3 linked regions of the Homo sapiens genome follow. The protein of the gene in region 1 interacts with the protein of each later gene in a pairwise test. Each region holds a gene or a part of one and is shown in the gene's direction. Other genes may lie near its edges.

Region 1 (7,296 bases):
ATTTACACTTTGACATGACAGGTTACAGATAGTTGCCTAGTATTTAGGATGACTAATAAGCAGACCCTCAGAAAACCACCTCTTAGGGGAAGGTATCTGGAATTAAGACTGTTCCAAAGTATCCAAGTTGATTACGCCAAGATGCCCCAAATTGGTTGTCTAAAATATTTATTAGTAATAGTAGATCACCTTACTCATTGGGTAGAAGCTATTTCCTTTCAAGTGCAACTGCTAATAATGTAGTCAAAACATTAGTTGAAAATATTATACCCAGGTTTGGATTAATAGGAAACATTGATTCAGATAATGGAACTCATTTCATTGCACATGTCATTAAGAAATTAGCCCAGGTACTGGATATAACATGGGAAATCATACTCCCTGGCACCCACCTTCATCAGGAAGAGTGGGGAAAAAAATGAACCAAACTCTAAAAAGCCACTTAAGCAAATTAGTCTTAGAGACTCGGTTGCCATGGACTAGATGCCTTCCCATTGCCCTGTTGAGAATCCGAACTGCTCCTCAGAGAGATGTTGGCTTATCCCCTTATGAAATGTTGTGTAAGTTGCTCTATTTGCACTCCGCTGCTGACATTCCCATGTTCGAAACAAAAGATCAGTTTCTCAGAAATTATATACTTAAGTTTATCTTCCACTTTCTCTTGCCTCAGAACTAAAGGTCTTTTAGCACAGGCACCACCCCTAGAGTTTCCAGTACACCAACATCAGCCTAGGGACCACATCCTTGTCAAAAGTTGGAGGGAAGGAAAACTTGAACCAGCTTAGGAAGGACCCTGCCTAGTGCTTCTAACCATTGAGACCACAGTTCAAACAGCAGAAATGGGATGGACTCATCACACCCAGGTCAAAAGAGCACCACCTCCTCCAGAATCATGGGCAGCTATTCTAGGGCTTACTCTAACCAAGCTAAAGCTAAAACGGGTTTGATCCTCTTATGTTGCATCTCTTCTTTTCCCCATCTATTGCTAGTCCTCTTGTTATTAATGTAACTAGGTCGAGTTCACCCCAAACTATTACCTTTGATGCTTGCCTTGTGATGCCCTGTGGAGATGTGCCAAGCCAGAGGCAACTCTCCACTTCAGAAAAGTATCTTTGTCCTTCCTAGCTCTTCTCAGACTGGAATTCTGTTAACTGGGATAAGTTAGCTTGGGAAGAGTTTGACGGAGATTCCAGTATAAACTGAGAGTCTTGCCTTCCCAATACAAAGCTTTTATGCTGTAGTTGGTCCAACATTCTGTGGACCACTAAAGAGCAAGAATAGATTGCCCCAAGCAGTAGTTGTAATTTCCTAAAGCTATACATTCATTTTACTAAAGGAACAGCTTCCCCTAACTGTCAGCTAAATCAGTACAATCCAGTACAGGCTATTATCTCAAACCCTCTAAGTTCTTCCCCTTCTCTAAGCCAATTTCCTTCTTTAAGCCAGTTTTATAATATGGGGGCTGAGGTTTCAGGAGCAGACCCTATCAGATCCTTTGAAATATTCTTCATTGCTCCCCCACCGCCTACACCTTCCCCTAAGCCTTCTTCCAGAACCTCCCACAACAAAACTGTTGTTCTTCCTCCATCTAATGACAAGACGAAGGTAGCTATTGTAGAAGTCAAAGTCCTAAAAGAAACTTTAGCAATTGAGACGGGATATCAAAATGCCAATGCCTGGTTAGAATAGATAAAATATTTCATCCGCACTTTAAACAAAAGCAATTGTTATGCTCGTGCGCATGGCAGGCCAGAGGGCCAGATTGTCCCCTTTCCACTATGATGGTCCTCCAGTCAACCAGGCATGGGCTGTATGGTAGCTCTTTTTCCAGGATTCCACAGCCTGGGGTAACAAGTCGTGCCAAGCTCTTTCTCTGCTATATCCCGAAGTTCAAGACCCCACAGGTTAGCCCCCGAGGGCCATCCAGCTTCTGTCTCCCGACACTGAGTTCATTTTGTGTCTCTCACGACAAAGAGGAAACTTAGCATCCCTTAGAGACCTAAAAGGATGCGGTGAGCTTAAGACTTTCCAAGAGCTCACCAACCAGTCAGCCCTTATACACCCCCGAGCAGATGTATGGTGATATTGTGGTAGACCTTTGCTGGACACTCTGCCTAGTAACTGGAGTGTCACTTGCGCCCTAGTGCAGTTGGCTATCCCTTTCACCCTGGCATTTCATCAACCAGAGAAAGAAAAAAACACAATGTCATAAAGCAAGGGAAGCCCCTTATGGGTCTTTCGACTCCCACATTTATTTAGATGCAATTAGAGTCCCACGAGGAGTACCAAATAAATTTAAGACCTGAGATCAAATAGCTGCTGGATTTGAGTCAATATTTTGGTGGGTGACAATTAATAAAAACGTAGATTAGATAAATTCCACCTATTACAACCAACAGCGGTTTATTAACTATACTAGAGATGCTGTTAAAGGAATAGCTGAGCAATTAGGGCTTACTAGCCAGATGGCTTGGGAAAATAGAATGGCCTTAGACATGATTTTAGCAGAAAAAGGGGAAGTTTGCATCATGATTAAAACTCAGTGTTGTACCTTCATCCCAAACAATACCGCCCCTGATGAAAGTATAACAAAGGCATTGCAAGGTCTAACTGCTCTGTCCAATGAGTTAGCAAAAAACTCAGGAGTAAATGACCCCTTCACAGGGTGGCTAGAAAAATGGTTTGGTAAATGGAAAGGGATCACAGCCACCATCCTTACTTCTCTTGCAATTGTAGCAGTAGTGCTTATCCTTGTTGGATGCTGCATCATACCTCGCATCCGTGGGCTAGTCCAAAGACATACAGAAACAGCCCTTACTAAAACTTCTCTCAGTTCCCCTCCACCATATTCTGACAAGCTCTTTCTTTTAGAAAACCAAGCAGAACAGCTATGCCAAGACATGTTAAAGAAATTTGAAGAGGAAGACCTGTAAAATTCAAAAGGGGGATATTGTTAAGTACAGTGAGTTCTGAGTTCCTCTGGGAACCAGTATGTCAGTATGTTCAGCTTTCTTATACTTTGTTCTCCATTTTAAAGTTTAACTTCCTCATTCTTTACACCTCCTTGCCCTAGTTTCAGTAAACAACCCCCTTCTAGCCTTTATACTCACATATTTAGAGTCCTTAGTCATCCTTAGTCACCTGCTCTGTCCTTAGTCATCCTTAGTCACCTGCACTGTAACCATCCTTCCTGCCTAAACTGCTCACCCCGCCACTCTGCCTCATACCCAGATAGCCTATCAGAATTAGTTTAGACTGTGCGGTCCAACCCTAGCCAATAGGGGAATGACACAGTAGTAGGGACTAGCTGCATTAGGGATAAGAACCCCTTCTCCTCCCATGCCCGGTATGCTCTTGCGACCACTCCAGGCACGATTGGCACCCTTCTGCAGAAGTAAATTGCCTTGCTGAGAAAGCTTTTTGCCGGAGTGCTGATTCTTCTTTGCGGCACCAAGCATTTGTTTCTAACATCAACTATCTACTTTCATTTTTCAGGTTAAGAAATCTCCAAAACAGTTGGCTGCTTACATAAATAGGTAAGAGTTTCTTTAAAGTTTGTGGGGAACAACAAATATGAAAGCTGGGTAAGGATGACAATAAGGGAAAAATAAGCATTCTTTTATCATAATAATAATTAACTTATTGTCAAACAGCTTCTTTATGCCAGTATCTGCACTAATAAACACATCAATATTGTCTCTGCTCCTTACAACAGTCCTACTCTATAGCCTACTCTATAGATAACATTAACCCTAACAGTTGATGAGAAAACTTAAGATCAGATAAGTTAAATGATTTGTTCAGAATCATATAGCTAGAAAAGTGGTAAGAATGACATTCATTCTCAGATCTGCCTAACTTCTAAAGGCACTTTCTACAAAACGACTGGTTTTCAAAGTGTGATTTGAGGACCTGCGGGTCCCTAAAGACCATTCATGGAATTTGTGAAGTCAGAATTACTTCCATAGCAATACTAAGACATTGACTGTCTTCATTTTCATTCTCTTGTTTGAGGGTACAATATAATTTTTCAAGAAGCTATATGCCATTTGATATCACAGTAGATTGAATGGAGAAGCAGAAATGAGAACCCAGCTGTCTTTTGTTAAACCAGATATTAGAGATATATAAAAATGTAAAACAGTACCATTCTTCTCACTTTTTAAAAAATTATTTTAGAAAATATGGGTTTTGGGTAAGATATTCCATGTTAATATGTAATTAGTCTTTTTTTGAATGAATTAACAAATGATTTAAATTTTGTTTTAGTTTTTACACAGTAAATATCAATAGATACTATTCACATAAAAATTATTTTGGCCATGGCTCACACCTGTATTCCCAGCACTTTAGGAGGCCAAGGTGGGTGGATCATGAGGTCAAGAGATCAAGATCATCCTTGCCAACAGGGTGAAACCCTGTCTCTACTAAAAATACAAAAGTTAGTTCAGCATGGTGGCGCGCGACTGTAGTCCCAGCTACTCAGGAGGCTGAGGCAAGAGAATCACTTGAACCTGGGAGGTGGAGGTTGCAGTGAGCTGAGATTGTGCCACTGCACACTAGCCTGGCAACAGAGAGAGACTGCATCTCAAAAAAAAAAAAAATTTTTGAGTCATTAATTATTTTTAAGAGAGCAAAGCATCGTGACACTAAAACGTTTGAGAACCACTGTATTAAACGATGAGGCTTGCTCTATCGTGTTCTTACTCAAATAAATCAATATACTTCAGCTTAATTAAATTTTAAAATATTCACACTTGCAGTCTTATTTGCCACTTTGTTAGAAAAAGATCAGGTTTCTAGAAAATGTTGTGGTCTTCTTACTCCCAGAATGGCCTTTAATATTTCATTTTTAAAAGCATTCTGGTTATTATGTCTGTCTTCATTTTTATTTGGCATAAAATGTCATCCTTTACATTGTCTTCCAGATAATTTGTAATTTCCCTTTTACTTTTCTCTTCAACTCAGAATTAAGATTTTTAAAATTCTATTTATTTCTAATTTTAGTGGATTACAATCACCAAATATAGCCTATTAATTCTCTGTTTAAAAACTTTTAAAGGATTTCATATGGTTCTTTTTCATTTAAGAAAATAAATTCTTTTTACAGAACAGTTGGACAAACTGTGAAAAGCCCAGATAAACTTCGTAAAGTGATCTATCGCAGAAAGAAAGTTCATCATCCCTTTCCAAATCCTTGTTACAGAAAAAAACAGTCCCCTGGAAGTGGGGGCTGTGACATGGCAAATAAAGAAAATGAACTGGCTTGTGCAGGCCACCTGCCTGAAAAATTACACCATGATAGTCGAACATATTTGGTTAACTCCAGTGATTCTGGTTCTTCACAGACAGAAAGCCCATCATCAAAATATAGTGGGTTTTTTTCTGAGGTAAGTCTTTTCTCTAACTCATATCTAGTTTAACTTTGTTCCTGTTATAATCTTGATTTTTTTCTTTGCCATATTCCACTAGCAGAATAATTTGTCACCTATTGAATGTAGACTTATTTGAGTCATAGTAACTCCCTGAGACAATTTTCTAGATTAACCAAATTTGAATTAATAATTTATTCCATTTCTCTAAGATGGGATGAAATGCTTAGCAGGCTGCTAAAACTATCCAGAATGACAAGTTAGCCAGTAGAGATTTAAAGGAAGGGAAAAGGAGAAATCTTGCCTAAAAAAGTGGAGCACTAGGCCGGACACAGTGGCTCACGCCTGGAGCCCGAGGTGGGTGGATCACGAGGTTAGGCGTTTGAGACCAGCCTGGCCAACATGGTGAAACCCTGCCTCTACTAAAAATACAAAAATTAGCCGGGCATGGTGGGGGGCGCCTGTAATCCCAGCTACTCAGAAGGAGGCTGAGACAGGAGAATCGCTTGAACCCGGGAGGCAGAAGTTGCAGTGAGTTGAGATCACACCATTGCACTCCAGCCTGGGCAACAGAGCGACTCCGTCTCAAAAAAATAAAAATAAAAAGGACAACATCTGCAGGCAGATCACCTGAGGTCGGGAGTTCGAGGCCAGCCTGGGCAACATGGTGAAACACCCTGTCTCTACAAAAGTACAAAAATGAGCCGGGCATGATGGTGGGTGCCTGTAATCCCAGCTGCTTGGGAGGCTGAGGCAGAAGAATCACTTGAACCTGGGAGGCAGAGGTTGCAGTGAGCCGCGATCATTCCATTGCACTCCAGCCTGGGCAAGAGAGCAAGACTCCATCTCAAAAAAAAAAAAAAAAGTGGACCACCGAAGCCAGTTATCCAGACACATTTTGCCGGGCTCTCAATATTGCCTGGTTAAAGCATAGTTCAGGCAAACCTGCTGTGGTTTGCTGCTCTTCTGGCTCAAGCAAAACTGGTTAACAGACTCAAAAGCGTTTTTGAGAGTGATAGAAATATTCTAAAACTGGGCCTGGCCAACATGGCGAAACCTCATCTCTACTAGAAATACAAAAATTAGCTAGGCATGGTGGCACACTTTGGGAGGCCAAGGCAGGTGGTCAGGAGTTCAAGACTCGCCTGGCCAACATGGCAAAACCCCATCTTTACCAAAAATACAAAAATTACCCAGGCGTGGTGGTGCACGCCTGTAATGCCAGCTACTTGGGAGGCTGACGCTCAAGAATTGCTTGAACCCGGGAGGCAAAGGTTGCAGTGAGCCAAGATCTTGTCACTGCACTCCAGCCTGGGTTACAGAGTGAGATTCTGTCTCAAAAAAAAAAAAAAAAAAAAAAAAAAAAAAAAAGTAGGCAAAGGACACAATAGACACTTTTCAAAAGAAGACATACATGTAGGTGACAAGCATATGAAAAAATGCTCAGCCTAAATGCTAAACCTAAAATCACTCATCATTAGAGAAATGCAAATCAAAACCACAACAGGATATCATCTCATACCAGTTAGAATGGCTATTATTAAAAAGTCAAAAAATAATAGATTCTGGCAAGGTTGTGGAAAAAGAACACTTATACAATGCTGGTGACAATGTAATTTAGTTTCAGCCATTGTGAAAGCAGTGCGACAATTTTTCAAAGAACTTAAAACAATCTTATTATTGGATATATACCCAAAGGAATATAAAACATGCTACCATAAAGACACATGTATGCGTATGTTCATCACAGCACTGTTCACAATAGCAAAGACAAGGAATCAATCGAAATGCCCATCAATGGTAAACTGGATAAAGAAAATATGGTGCATATACACCATGGAATACTATATGCAGCCATAAAAAGAACAAGATCATGTCATTTGCAATCACGAGTGAACCTGGAGGCCATTATCCTAAGCGAACT
Region 2 (7,296 bases), on another chromosome or scaffold:
CCAGACATCGTGGTGTATAACAATGAAAAAATCATGGTCTCTGCCATGGGGCTTTAGTATAGGAGACATACATTAATCGGAAAATCACATCGATATATCATTAAACGGTGATAAGTACTATGAAGGAAATATTCCTATGAAGGAACTGTCATAGTATTATGAGACATGCATTAATCAGAAAATCACATCAGTATATAATTAAACTGTAATAAGTGCCATGAAGGAAAAGTATGAGGTGTTATGAAAATATATAATGGAGACTTTGGGAGACTGAGGCAGGCGAATTGCATGAGGCCAGGAGTTCGAGACCAGCCTGGGCAACATGTTGAAACCCCATCTCTACTAAAATTATAAAAATTAGCCAGGTAGCCGGGCATGGTGGTTCACGCCTGTAATCCCAGCACTTTGGGAGGCCAAGGTGGGCGGATCACGAGGTCAGGAGATCGAGACCATCCTGGCTAATACCGGGAAACCCCGTCTATACTAAAAATACAAAAAATTAGCTGGGTGTGGTGGCGGGCATCTGTAGTCCCAGCTACTTGGGAGGCTGAGGCAGGAAAATAGCATGAACCCGGGAAGCGGAGGTTGCAGTGAGCCGAGATCGTGCCACTGCACTCCAGCCTGGGCAACAGAGCCAGACTCCGTCTCAAAAAAAAAAAAAAAAAAAAATAGCCAGGTATGGTGGCATACGCCTGTAATCCCAGCTACTCGGGAGGCTGGGGCAGGAGAATTGCTTGAACCCAGGAGACAGCGATTGCAGTGAGCCAAGATTGCACCACTGTACTCCAGCCTGGGTGACAGAGTGAGACTCTGTCTCGGGAAAAAAAAAAGAAAAGAAAATATATAACGAGAGACGGGATTCATCTGGGAGTTTAGGCCTCATGTTTCTTTGAGAAGGTGGCATTTGAGCTAAGATTTGAAGTAGAAGCTAACAGTGAGGTAACAGGAAAAGCATTTTTGGCAGAGGGAATAGTATGTAGTAAAAAAATAGCATTTGAGGAAATGAAAGAATGTCAGTATAGCTAAAGCATTGTAAGCAAAGCAAGAGAGGCATGAGGTAAGGTTAGAGACATAGCTAGGCAGGGGTCTGATCTCAGAAGCTAATCAGGATCAACCTGCTTAGTACTTGGATGGGAGACAGGCAGGGGCTGAATCAAGTAAGACCTTATAGAGCATCTGTTCTTTATGCTAAGAGCAAAGGAAGACCACTGAAGGATTTTTAAGGAAATGACATGATCTAATTTGCACTTTCAAAAGATTTTTTGTCTACAGAAAGGATGGGAGAATGGGGCAAAGGTAAATGTTGACAGACTGGTGGAAAATGAAAGAGAGAGGGTGAAGGAAACAAGTACTAAGAGTGACATCTGTGTGTCTGACTTGCACATGTGGGAGGATGATATCACTGGCCATGAAAGAGAGCATTGGAGGAGAAAGACTATAAGACTCTTTTTGAACATGTTGAGTTTCAGATTATTTCATCAGTTACTTGAGTTTCTTATAGCTCTTCAGCCCCCTAAGCAACTCTGATCTAGAGGCAGCTACAGATGTCTTTGGAATGAAAGACACCTGCTCTCATGTTTGGTCATTTCCTGTCATCATATGAGATATAGTCTAAGTGTTTAATTGTTTGTTTGGCAGGGAAAGGTAAAAGGAGGAGATCATCTGATGAAGATGCTGCTGGGGAGCCCAAGGCCAAGAGACCAAAATATACTACAGATAACAAGGAGGTAATGGGGCTTCTTGATTAGAAGTCCTCACCCTGAAGCAGGCCAGAAAGAGCACTCAGATAACAAGCCCCAAGAGAGCTTAAAGCTTCCTGAGCTAAGAAGCAGTAGGATTATGAACCTCATTAAATATTAGGAATAGACTAACAAAGAATGAACCATTACTGTCTCCCTTCTGAGCCTTAACTTAATTCTTTCATTGAACAGAGGTAACAGCTTATGTAAAAAGGGGCCTAGAAAAAGTTTAGGTTGCTCAATATGGCGAGAACCTAAAGACCTACAGGGGCCAGTGATGAAAAATGGGTCTAAAAACTATACATAGGCCTGAACTCATATTCAAATGCCTTCTTAGCGTACCTATAAAGATGTCAGTAAGCATCTCAAATTTAGTGTGGCCAAAACAGAATAATTGATTCCTCCTCCCAAATATCTTGCTCCCTCATAAACTTCCTCATCTTAGTAAAAGACACTACCACGTAGGCCAGCCGCCTAGGACACCACCATTTCTGCTTAAGCCAAAATCCTTGGAACCCTCTAATCTCACAGTAAAACATATCAGCCCAGTTTCCAAAATTACCTCAAATCCAACCATTTCTCATCTTTTCACTGCCATCTCTCAACTCTTTGCAAACGCTTTCGTTAATGGTCTCCCTAGCTGCATTCTTACCTACTTAGTAGCCAAAATGACTTTCTAAGTTGTTCAAAACAAAACAACACATCCACTGATTAGACTCCTTTAATAGCTTTCCTTTACTTTTAGAAGAAATCCAAGGTACGGGCTAGGAAGCCTTACGTGATCTAGGTCTTCGTATGATCTGCTGGAGACAGGGCTCTTCAACCTCACCTCTGCCCCGTCTCCATCTTACTCACTGTGTTCCCTCTACTGACTTTATCTCTTAAACATGTCAAACTCTTTCTGGTCTTTAGACTTTGGCTCCGGCTTCAAATGTTTGTCCCCAGATCTTCATGTAGTGGTCTCTGTTTTTATCATTTCTATCTTAAATGCTGTTTTCATAGACTTCAAGCACCATTGCCCACTCCTACACTAGTTCCTACCACATTTCTCATTTCATATACTTCACAGCATTTATATTTATAACTGGAATTATTTATTATTTGTGTACATGTTTGTCTAAGAGGTTTGGGCTTTATCCTGAAGGCAAAGGAGAGCCATTGATGGATTTTAAGCAGGGAAATGAAGTGACTGGATTTATATTTTAGAAAGATTATTATAGCACAGCAGTTCCTAACTTGTTCTACTCCATGGATGGATTTCAGAGAGTCCAGTTATACTTACGTGCATTTTTCAGTGAAGCTCTCCGTACCTTTCATTACATTCTTCAAAGGAACTGTGACCCAAAACAGTTTAAAAAAAAAAAAAGCACTACTCTAAGAAATGGGAAGAATGATGCAAAACAAAATTAGAAGGAGAAAACCCAGTTACTCCTTTTATAGTGTCTGCTATGTTTTAAAGGGAAAAAAAAAAACCCAGTTAGGAGGCTATTGTAGTAATCCAGATGGGCCAAGATTTAGAGTCTGAAATAAGGTAATGATAGGAGAAAGAAAAGTAGACATCTGATAAATATAAAGAATAGATAGAACTTGGTAATGGGGTGGTAGATTATGGAGAGCAAGGGACTAGGGGTGATACCCAAGTTTGTAGCTTAAGAAATCGGGTTGGCTGGCCAAGCACAGTGGCTCACACCTGTAATCCCAGCACTTTGGGAGGCCGAGGTAGGTGGATCACCTGAGGTCAGAGTTCGAGATGAGCCTGGTCAACATGGTGAAACCCCGTCTCTACTAAAAATACAAAAATTAACCGGCCATGGTGGTAGGTGCCTGTAATTACAGCTACTTGGGAGGCTGCGGCAGGATAATGGCCTGAACCTGGGAGGCAGGGGTTGCAGTGAGCTGAGATCACGCCACTGCACTCCATCCTTGGTGACAGAGCAAGACTCCATCTCAAAAAAAAAAAAGAAATTGGGTTGTCTAGGCACAGTGGCTCGTGCCTGTAATCCCAGCATTTTGGGAGGCTGACGTAGAAGAATCACTTGAGCCCAGGAGTTTGAGACCAGCCTGGACAACATAGTGAGACCCCATCTGTACCAAAAAAAAAAACACCAGACCTGGTGGCACATGTTTGTAGTCCCAGCTACTCAGGGGCTGAGGTGGGAGGATCACTTGAGCCCAGGAAGTCAAGGCTTCAGTGAGCCATGATGGTGCCACTGCACTACAGCCTGGGCAACAGAGCAAGACCCTGTCTCAAAAAAAAAAAAAAATTGGGTTGGTTATAGTGTAGTTACCTGAAAACTTACAAAACAGAACAGTTTGGGGAACAAATGGAAGTGTCAAATAGGCAGCTGAGTCTATGCATCTGGAGCATAATAGAGAGTTCCAGGATAGGCCGGGTGCGGTAATGCCTGTAATCCTAGCACTTTGGGAGGCAGAGGCAGGTGGATCACCTGAGGTCAGGAGTTCGAGACCAGCCTGGCCAAGATGGCGAAACCCCGTCTCTACTAAAAATACAAAAATTAGCCATGCATGGTGGCGCAGGCCTGTAATCCCAGCTACTTGGGAAGCTGAGGCAGGAGAATCGCTTGAACCTGGGGGGCAGAGGTTGCAGTGAGCGGAGATTGTGCCACTTCACTCCAGCCTGGGCGAAAGAGCAAAACTCCATCTCAAAAAAAAAAAAAAAAAGAGAGAGTTCTAGGATAGAGTAACAGATTTGGAAATGCATCAATAGTTGAAGCCTGGAGAGCAGATAAAATTACCCAAGTAGAGCATGTAGAGTAAAAAGAAAGGAAAGGTATGGACAGAACCCTGACAAAACACCAGGATTACAGTTGGGATCTGAAAGAGGAATCTGTGGATACTGAGGAAAGGTAGCCAGAAAGGTTCAAAGTAACGCCAAGAAAAAATGGTGTCGGCCAGGCCCAGTGGCTCACACTTGTAATCCTAACACTTTGGAAGGCCAAGGCGGGCAGATCGCTTGAGCCTAGGAATTTGAGACCATCCTGAGCAACATGGTGAGACCGTCTCTACAGAAAAATACAAAAATTACCCAAGCGTGGTGGCACGCACCTGTGGTCCCAGCTGCTTGGGAGGCTGAGATGAGAGGATCACCTGAGCCCAGGGAGGTCAAGGCTGCAGTGAGCTACAATCACACCACTGCACTCCAGCCTGGGTGACAAAGACCCTGTCTTTAAAAGGAAAAAAAAAATGGTGTCATAAAACCAAGGAGCCACATAAAGTTTTAAGAAGGAAAAAATGTCCAACCATGTCATATGCTTCCAAAAGGTTAAATAAGATCAGAAGTGGAAATTATTATTTGAACTTAACAACATAGAATCCTTAAGGACAGTTGTGGAATTTCACTGGAATGCGAGTGACAATTGACATTTCAGTACAATAGTGGAAATGGGTTGCGTAAATCTAGGTAGAGATACAACTGAGATGGCCAACTGTTTGAGAAGCTTGGCTGTGACACTAAGGAAAAGAAGAGAAGGCATAGGGTTGAAAGAGAATTCTAGAGTAGAAAGAGACTTGGACAGGGTAAAGGCTGATAAGAAGGCGGTAGAGAAGGAAAGCCTGAAGATGTTAGAGGACAGGGTAAAATAGAGCTGGATCCCCAAGAATGAATGAGAGAGTAAGATTTGGAATACCAATATGGGCATTAACCTTAGGTAAAAGGAGCATTTTTCAGCTGTGATAAAAGTGAGTGAAAATATGAATCAAGAACAAAAAAGAAATGTGGTGAGGATGTGCACAGAGCTGAGTGAGTTCTGGCCTAGTGTCTTCTATTTTCTCTGTGAAATGAGAGGCAAAGTCATCTGCCGAGAGTGAGAAGGAAGAAGGGTCAAGTTGGAGACTTGAAAGTAATGGAGAAGAGTTAAAATAGAGAGAGAAAGGCCGGATGTGGTGGCTCACACCTATAATCCCAGCACTTGGAGTCCGAGGCAGGCAGATCACCTGAGGTCAGGAGTTCGAGACCAGCCTGGCCAACATTGTAAAACCCCAACTCTACTAAAAATACAAAAATTAGCCTAGCGCAGTGGTGGTTGCCTGTAATCCCAACTACTCAGTAGGCTGAGACAGGAGAATCACTTGAACCCGAGAGGCAGAGGTTGCAGTGAGCCGAGATCATGCCACTGCACTCCAGCCTGGGTGACGAGCAAAACTCCGTCTCAGAAAAAAATTAAAATAAATGTTAAATAATAAAATAGGGAGAGAAAGATTGGAGATGAGCTTAGAAAACCTGTTTGAAGTCGGAATTTGTCTAGACACCAGTCTACATGACTGAATGATTTTTTTCCAACCAATGTAATTGTTACTGTGTAGGAAAAGAAATGGTGAACCATTAAATCCAAGCTCCTCACCAGAAAACTTTACACTATAGCTAAATGTTTCTCTAAATCTTTTCCTCAGCCCATTCCAGATGATGGGATTTATTGGCAGGCCAACCTTGACAGATTCCACCAACACTTCCGTGACCAAGCCATTGTGAGCGCAGTTGCTAACAGGATGGACCAGGTAATACCTAAGTGGGTCTGTCATTGGTCATCAGGGACATTTACTTATTTGTCAGATATGGCCATTGGCACATAGAGCCAGGGGCAGCACTGTGATTTCTGAATTCTAGTTTACTTTTCAAACAGACAAGCAGCGAGATTGTGCGAACCATGCTCCGAATGAGTGAGATTACCACTTCCTCTAGTGCTCCCTTCACCCAGCCATTGTCTTCCAATGAGGTGAGTTTCATGTTCTTGCACTAACTTTCTGACAGATTCTTGGGTGTTATCAACGTTTATTATACACAGATCCTGAGTTTGGGTTGAGGTCTGAGCCTTGAAAGAGAAGGGCATTTGATGTGGAGCAGGGATTATCTTCAAGTGATGAGCACTGAAATGTTTGGTCTCTTAGGATCCAGCTTTTAAAAATCTACACTATTCACTTAGTCAAAGTATCTATTCGTCAAGTACAGCCTATTCCTAATTATTTTAAGAATCCACAATTTGGACTCTGAGAGCCTTGGCATTCAGGACATTATTTGACCCCCTGTACTTAAAATATCGATATTTAATATATCCAATATGTGTTATTTATATTACTTTCATAGTAATACAGTCATGCATCACTTAACAGCAGGGATACATTCTGAGAAATGTGTCGTTAGGTGATTTCATCATTGTGTGAACATCATAGGGTGTACTTAACACAAACCTAGATGGTGTAGCCCTACAGCACACCTAGACTGAACGGGATAGCCTATGGCTTCTAGGCTGTAAACCTGTACAGCATGTTACTGTACTGAATACTGTAGGCAGTTGTAACGCAGTAGCATCTGTGTATCTAAACATCTAATCACAGAAAAGGTACAGTAAAAATATGGTATGAAAAATTAAAAACCACACCTGTTTAGTGCACTTAACATGAATGGAGCTTTCAGGACTAAAAGTTGCCCTGTGGGAGTTAGTGAATGAATGGCAGATTAATGTGAATGTGATGGTCTACACGCTCAGGCTACACTGTATTTATTAAAAACCAGTAACAGGCTGAGCGGGGTGGCTCACGC
Region 3 (7,565 bases), on another chromosome or scaffold:
ACACTCATGCGCAGCAACGGCGCCGCAGTGGGCGCTCATGCGCAATGGAGGGTCCGGCGTCCGCCTTGGCGGGTGGGAGTGATGACCTGCACTCCCCAAACCACTGCGGGATAGAACGGGGCCGAGTGCTCTCAGGGGTGGCCGCTACCGGGGCGGCCCGAGACACGGCTGCGGGTTCCAGCCAACAGGCCCGGAGTCGCGGCCTCGGCTCCGCCGTGGGTGCACGGGCTAGGGCTGCGGGGACTCCTGTGGGCTCCGCGTCTGCGGCTGGGAGGAATGGGGATCGTCCCCAGATCCCGCCTTCCGGGCAGGGCCTCCGCTGCCTGCGATCCTGCCCACAGTCCAAGGATCCTCCTCGCCTCTCGCGGACTGCGGTGTCAGCCGCCCGAGCCGTTCCCCGGACACCTGGCCAGGTGACGGCCCCCGACCTCCGCCTGGGGCGGGGGGGGGGGTGGTCTGCGAGTCCCCCTCACCCCCAGCAGACGTTCCCGAGCTCAGAAGGAAAAAAAGGACGAGGAAGGGGCTGCTTATGAGTGTGTCGGTGTTGATTTAGTAGTTGTGGAATGTGAGCCCTGGGGAAATAAGTGGAAGAGGCATGGACCGTGTGGCTCCACTGGGGCGTTCGCGAATGCCTCCTGGAGGAGGAGACCAACCAGAAAGAAGAGGCAGCGTCCAGCAACTGGACAAAGGCCAGAGGGCCTTTCTGGCAAGAGGACTGGGGTGAGCAGAAGCTGATCCGGCTCTTTATCCCTGGGCGCAAGTGCTGTGTGGCATAGGTCAGTGAAGGCCTGAAAGGGATGTTGAGCCAGCAGCAAAAGGCCTTGAGTGCCCCATTAAATAAGTTACAGCTGTGGCTGACGCCTGTAATCCCGGCACTTTGGGTGGCCCAAGCGGGCGGATTGCCTGAGCTCAGGGGTTGTAGACCAGCCTGGCCAACATGGTGAAACCCCGTCTCTACTAAAAATACAAAAATTAGCCGCGCGTGGTGGCACGTGCCTGTAATCCCTGCTACTTGGGAGGCTGAAACAGGAGAATCGCTTGAACCGGGGATGCAGAGTTTGGAGGCTGCAGTGAGCTGAGATCACGCCACTGCACCCCAGCCTGGGCGATAGAGCAAGACTGTCTCAAAAAAAAAAAAAAATCACATATGTTGGCCAGGCAGGGTGGATCACGCCTGTAACGCCAGCACTTTGGGAGGCTGAGGATTACTTGAGCCCTGGAGTTTGAGAGCAGCCTGGGTAAAATAGTGAGACCCCATCTGTACTAAAAAAATTAGCCAGGCATGGTGGTGTACACCTGTAGTCCCAGCAACTGGGGAGGTCGAGATGGGAGGATTGCTTGAGCCCAGGAGGTCAAGGCTGCAGTGGGCTATGATCATGCCACTGGACTACATCCTGGACAGCAAAGCAAGACCCCATTTCTAAGAGAAAAAAAAAGTGCCATTTTGTAAATGACTTCTGGGATGCTTATCTTGATGTAGAAAGTCTCCTACCCCAAGAACAAACAGATAATTCCTGAACAGGGATTGGCAAACAATGGCCTCAGTGGGCCTTCTGTTTCTGTAAAGTTTTATTGGAATGCAGTCACACTTGTTTGTTTAGTATTATCTATGCTGCTATCTGGAAGAGTTGGGTAGTCATGGCAGAGACCTTATGGTCTGCAAAGCTGAAAATATTTATTATTGGGCTTTTCACAGAAAAAGATTGCCTACATGTGACCTACAAGAATATACACTTGTGGCCAGGCGCAGTGGCTCACGCCTGTCATCCCAGCACTTTGGGAGGCTGAGGTGGGTGGATCACCTGAGGTCAGGAGTTTGAGACCAGCCTGGCCAACAAGGTGAAACCCTGTCTCTACTAAAAATACAAAAATTAGCCGGGTGTGGTGGTGTGCGCATGTAATCCCAGCTACTCTGGAGGCTGAGGCAGGAGATTCACTTGAACCTGGAAGGTGGAGGTTGCAGTGAGCTGAGATCTTGTCACTGCACTCCAGCCTGGGGGACAGAGTGAGACTCAGTCTCAAAAAATACAAAAAAGAATATACACTTGTGCCAGCACAGTACTTAGCACTAAGGATTTCTCTTTGCCACTGAATGGAAAAAACACCCTTGTTATTATTAATGATGTTATGCTTTATTGTTAACTTTATTACTAGATTATTACTTTTACTCATCTCTTCTTGCATACTCTTCTATTCTTCTGATATTTGTGTCTGTATTAGTGCCTATTTGAGCCCATCTGCTTAATATGGTACATTTTAGTATCTAATAAAGGGTGCCTGACTTTTTTTTTTGAGACGAGAGTATAGCTGTCACCCAGGCTGGAGTGCAGTGGCACGATCTCAGCTCACTGCAACCTCCGCCTCCAGGATTCAGGCAATTCTCCTGCCTCAGCCTCCGGAGTAGCTAGGATTATAGGCACCCGCCACCACCCCCGGCTAATTTTTGTATTTTTAGTAGAGACAGGTTTCACAATGTTTGCCAGGCTGGTCTTGAATTCCTGACCTCAAGTGATCCACCTGCCTCGGCCTCCCAAAGTGCTGGGATTACAGTTGTGAGCCACCGCGTCCGGTCTCCGACTGTTCTTTTAACCAGATACTGTTGGACTTTTCTCCATATGATCTTTAAGTTGTTTTATTCTGTGAGCTGGGGGCGGGGGGAGTCTTTGAATTGGAATTGCTATACTTTTGTTTAGTAGTTTTGTGAAGATTTTTTTTTTTTTTTTGAGACCGAGTACTAGGATTGCAGGCATGAGCCACTGTGCCCAGCCAATTTTTATATTTTTAGAGATGGGGTTTCACCATGTTGGCCAGGCTCATCTTGAACTCCTGACCTCAGGTGATCCCCCCAGCCCGGCTTCCCAAAGAGTTGGAATTACAGGCATGAGCCACTGTGCCTGGTCTGATACGGCCTTCATGGAGAAATTAAAAAAATACTTTCCATTCAGGAATAATATGTCAGTGTGTTCTGAACTTAACTTCAGGTCTGTTAATGAGGTTTTTGTATTTTCTTCATGAAGATCCTTTATTGCTTTTGCTAATTGATTTCCAAGTTGCTCCAACCATCACTATTGTGAGTGACAATTTAATCACTATTATGGCTTAGAATTTTTTTTCTAATTTTCATTTCAAAATTGTGAAGTATTTCAACCTGCGGAGAGGTTCGGAGAGTAATAGAATAATCTATAAATAATAAAGATGACACCCATGTATCATCGAGATTTTACCTGTGTTAACATGTAGTCAGATTTTCAGGTTTTGATTTGTTTTTTCCTATCAAGCATCACAGGTGTAACTGAGGTCTCCTTTGTCTCCTCCCCAACTCTTTCCCCTCAGTTGCCACTTTCTTGAGGTTGGACAATCTATCTGGTCCATGTTATTGTTACTTTACTACTTATGTATCAATCTCTGTATAACATATAGATTTTGTGTCTTTTATTTCCAGGTAAGTTGTATCATGTGGATAAGTGCACAGTTTACTTTTCGAACTGTTTTTGGAGAACTGTCTATCTTGTATATAAGTTAGTCCTTTTTTTTTTTTTTTTTTTTGAGACGAAGTCTCCCTCTTGTCCCCCAGGCTGGAGTGTGATGGTACGATCTCAGCTCACTGCAACCTCCGCCTCCCAGGTTCAAGTGATTCTCTTGCCTCAGCCTCCCGAGGAGCTGGGATTACAGGCGCCTGCCACCACGCCTAGCTAATTTTTGTATTTTTAGTGGAGACGGGGTTTCACCATGTTGGCCAGGCTGGTCTCAAACTCCTGACCTTAGGTGAGCCCAGTCCGTTTGTTTTAACCACCCCCTATTGCTCCGTTGCACATACCACAGTTTCTCTCTTCCCTGTCAGTAAATATTTAGGCTTCCCCATGCTAAAGTTTAAGAGAACCACTGAAAGAATGAAAATGTGTAGTTTTCATTTTCAACCGGCTATTGTTACTACAGAGGAAAGTTACTGGCTTTGTTTACATTTCTTAGATCTAGTCATTTTAACAAATTAGGCCTCCCAAAATGCTGGGATTACAGGCGTGAGCCACGCACCCAGTAAATAATTATATTGCCAATGAATAATGAGTGTACTTATTCTGAATTTTAACATTATTATCTCAAAAAAAGATTATAGATAAAGAAATATTTTAGGAAATTATGCAGTAAATAAAAGGAAGGCTCTATAACAAAAGAATGATAGCATCGGGTTAAAAATCAGAGGAGACCATAGGAGAAAGTAAATGCCTGCGCGTCCGCCCCGAGGCAAGTCCACGCCAGGGTAATGAATAACCCGGTACCCGCGGCCGCCCCAGCGTTGGGCGGGGGAAGCTCGGGGACTCCGCGCACGCGCACATCCTTGTCCCGGCAGCCGCGCAAGCGCAATCGCCCGGAACATGGCTGCCGCCGGCCGCCAACCGTAAGTGCCGACGCATCCCTGAGCCCTGCGCTGCCTCCGTTTCCTGCGGAGGGAAGTCTTGGCGGGTGGAGGTCCGCCGGGTCCTTGTGGGGCGGCGAGGGGCGCGTCCGCGGGTGGGTTTCACCTGGGTGGTGGGCATGTCGGGCCCGCTAGGGCGAGGGTCTGGCCAGGGGCGTAGTTCTCCTGGTGGGTGGGGACGCTCCGTGGCGATTGGGGTCACTCCTCTGAGGACGAGGTCGCTCCGGGGCTGGTCTGGACGCCCCCGCTCTTTCCTTAGCGTCACCCGTGAGTTCCGCGCTCGCATCTCTAGCCCGCCCTCCCATAGAGACTGTTTTGCCACGCCTGCTGGGTGTCCTGGTCCGTCTCCGGGGGTAACCCCCGAGTCTGCAGCTTTTCTGTCAGGTGTGAGGGGCAGTGTAGGCTTGGGTCGGCCTCCGGCTGAATTGGCGGCCGTGAGCCAGTGGGCTGAGCCGCTTCCCCTTGAGTCTCGAAGGTGTTAGATCACCTGTGTGTTTTTCCATTTGATATTTGCAAAATCATGTTTTACTGCAATTCTCAGTGAGGGCCGCATTTTTGCACGTGTTTAGTGACCATTTTGCTGTCTTTTCCCTTGGTTTAGTGGCATATTTCCTTTGTGCAGTCTTCCAGTCTCAATATTTTATGACATAAAATGTTGGTTTAGATAGAGAAGCTGAAAGACTTGTGCAGTGAACGACCCGGTTAACGTCTGCTGAACTTACTGTATCCCTTATCTTTCCTTCTGTCCATCCTTTCAGCCATTCATTAATCCACCTATTTTTGGAAACATTTCAAAGTAAGTTGCAGATATCACAACACTTCTCCCTCAAACACCTCACTATGCTTACCATGAATTAGAGTTCAGTAGTGCTTTTTTAAATTTTTTGAGCCAAAATTGACTTTCAGTGAAATGCACAGATATTCCCTGTACCATTGATGAATTTTGACAAATGCAACCTAAACCTTTATTAAAATTACCATCAGCCTGAAAAGGTCCTTTATTTTTTGCCAAGTTAAAAAATTTGGCTATAGGAACTTGGGCTTGTTGAAGTACGTTTTGAATACCCAGTTTTTGTCTGTTTTTTCTTTTTTCCCACAGCAAGTGACTTTCCTCCATTCTACTGCTTGTTTACCTCTCTCTTCACCCAACTTTTCATTTTGAAAAGTTCCGCATTTGCATAGAAGTTGCAGGAATAGTTTAACACTTCTAAAACCATCCAGATTCTAAAATTATTAACACTTTTTGCCACATTAGCTTTATCTTTATCTTCTCCCTGCCTGAGACACATGCATAGGTGTTACCAGAAAGGGGGTCCCGAGCTATAACCCAACAGAGGGTTCTTATATCTTGGGAAAGAAAATTCAGGGCGAGTCCATAGAGTAAAGTGAAAGCAAGCTTATTAAGAAAGTAAAGGAATAAAAAAATGGCTACTCCATAGATAGAGCAGCCCCAAGAACTGCTGGTCGCCCATTTTTATGGTTATTTCTTGATTATATGCTAAACAAGGGGTGGATTATTCATGCCTACCATTTTTAGGCCATATAGGGTAACTTCCTGATGTTTCCATGACATTTGTAAACTGTCATGGTGCTAGTGGGAGCAGGACCAGAGGTCACTCTCGTTGCCATCTTGGTTTTGGTGGGTTTTAGCCACCTTTACTGCAAGCTGTTTTATCAACAAGGTCTTTATGACCTGTATCTTGTGCAAATCTCCTGTGTTATCCTATGACCTAGAATGCCTTAACTGTCTGGAAATGCAGCCCAGTAGGTTTCAGCCTTATTTTACCCAGTCCCCATTTAAGATGGAGGTTTGCTTTGGTTCAAACGCCTCTGACATAGGGTTTTCTTTTTATATTTTACACACACTTGTACACACAGCAGGTGTTGCAGAGGCAGGTGTGATACAGACATATATTTACATACACTTAGTTTTTTTGGCTGAGTTACTGGAAGTATGTTATAGATATCATACCTCACTCTGAAATACTTCAGCCAGGATCTCATAAGAAAAGTAACGTTCTTATTTTTTAATTTTGTATTTTTTATAGAGATGAGATCTCACTATGTTGCCCAGACTGTTCTTGAACTCCTGGTCTTAAGCAGTCCTCCTGCCTTGGCCTCCCAAAGTGGTGGGATTACAGGTGTGAGCCACCACACCCAGCCAAAAAGAACATTTGAACATTTAAACAAAACTAGTGTTATTATCACACCCAAGTATACTTTTTTTTTTTCAAAAAACTAATTGTTTTTTATTTGTAATTTTTTTTTCCTGCCAATCTGAACCTGGAAAAGAAGAAACAGGGAAATTTTTTACCTTCCTCTCTTTTTTTTTTTTTTTTTTTAATTGATCATTCTTGGGTGTTTCTCGCAGAGGGGGATTTGGCAGGGTCATAGGACAATAGTGGAGGGGAGGTCAGCAGATAAATAAGTGAACAAAGGTCTCTGGTTTTCCTAGGCAGAGGACCCTGCGGCCTTCCGCGCAGTGTTTGTGTCCCTGGGTACTTGAGATTAGGGAGTGGTGATGACTCTTAAGGAGCATGCTGCCTTCAAGCATCTGTTTAACAAAGCACATCTTGCACCGCCCTTAATCCATTTAACCCTGAGTGGACACAGCACATGTTTCAGAGAGCACAGGGTTGGGGGTAAGGTCACAGATCAACAGGATCCCAAGGCAGAAGAATTTTTCTTAGTACAGAACAAAATGAAAAGTCTCCCATGTCTACTTTCTGCACAGACACGGCAACCATCCGATTTCTCAATCTTTTCCCCACCTTTCCCCCCTTTCTATTCCACAAAACCGCCATTGTCATCATGGCCCGTTCTCATTGAGCTGTTGGGTACACCTCCCAGACGGGGTGGTGGCTGGGCATAGGGGCTCCTCACTTCCCAGTAGGGGCGGCTGGGCAGAGGCGCCCCTCACCTCCCGGACGGGGCGGCTGGCCGGGTGGGGGGGCTGACCCCCCCCACCTCCCTCCCGGACGGGGCGGCTGGCCGGGCAGAGGGTCTCCTCACTTCCCAGTGGGGCAGCCGGGCAGAGGCGCCCCTCATCTCCCAGACAGGGCGGCTGGCCGGGCGGGGGGCTGGCCCCCCACCTCCCTCCTGGACGGGGCGTCTGGCCAGGCGGAGGGCTGACCCCCCCACCTCCCTCCCG

What was found. Proteins that work in one complex are often made in the same cells at the same time.
Region 2: the proteins of KATNBL1 (region 1) and POLR3C interact in binary tests that used the Homo sapiens proteins (3 or more experiments, as listed by UniProt).
Region 3: the proteins of KATNBL1 (region 1) and ZNF329 interact in binary tests that used the Homo sapiens proteins (3 or more experiments, as listed by UniProt).

Annotation. Positions count from the first base shown.
Region 1 is NC_000015.10:34,150,884-34,158,179, reverse strand, and holds part of KATNBL1 (KATNB1-like protein 1), read left to right. Parts: intron 1-3,495; coding exon 3,496-3,536; intron 3,537-5,110; coding exon 5,111-5,390; intron 5,391-7,296.
Region 2 is NC_000001.11:145,827,111-145,834,406, forward strand, and holds part of POLR3C (DNA-directed RNA polymerase III subunit RPC3), read left to right. Parts: intron 1-1,638; coding exon 1,639-1,727; intron 1,728-6,149; coding exon 6,150-6,254; intron 6,255-6,363; exon of another isoform or gene 6,364-6,379; coding exon 6,380-6,472; intron 6,473-7,296. UniProt on the Homo sapiens protein: DNA-dependent RNA polymerase catalyzes the transcription of DNA into RNA using the four ribonucleoside triphosphates as substrates.
Region 3 is NC_000019.10:58,147,583-58,155,147, reverse strand, and holds the start of ZNF329 (zinc finger protein 329), read left to right. Parts: upstream 1-4,358; 5' UTR 4,359-4,396; intron 4,397-7,565. UniProt on the Homo sapiens protein: May be involved in transcriptional regulation.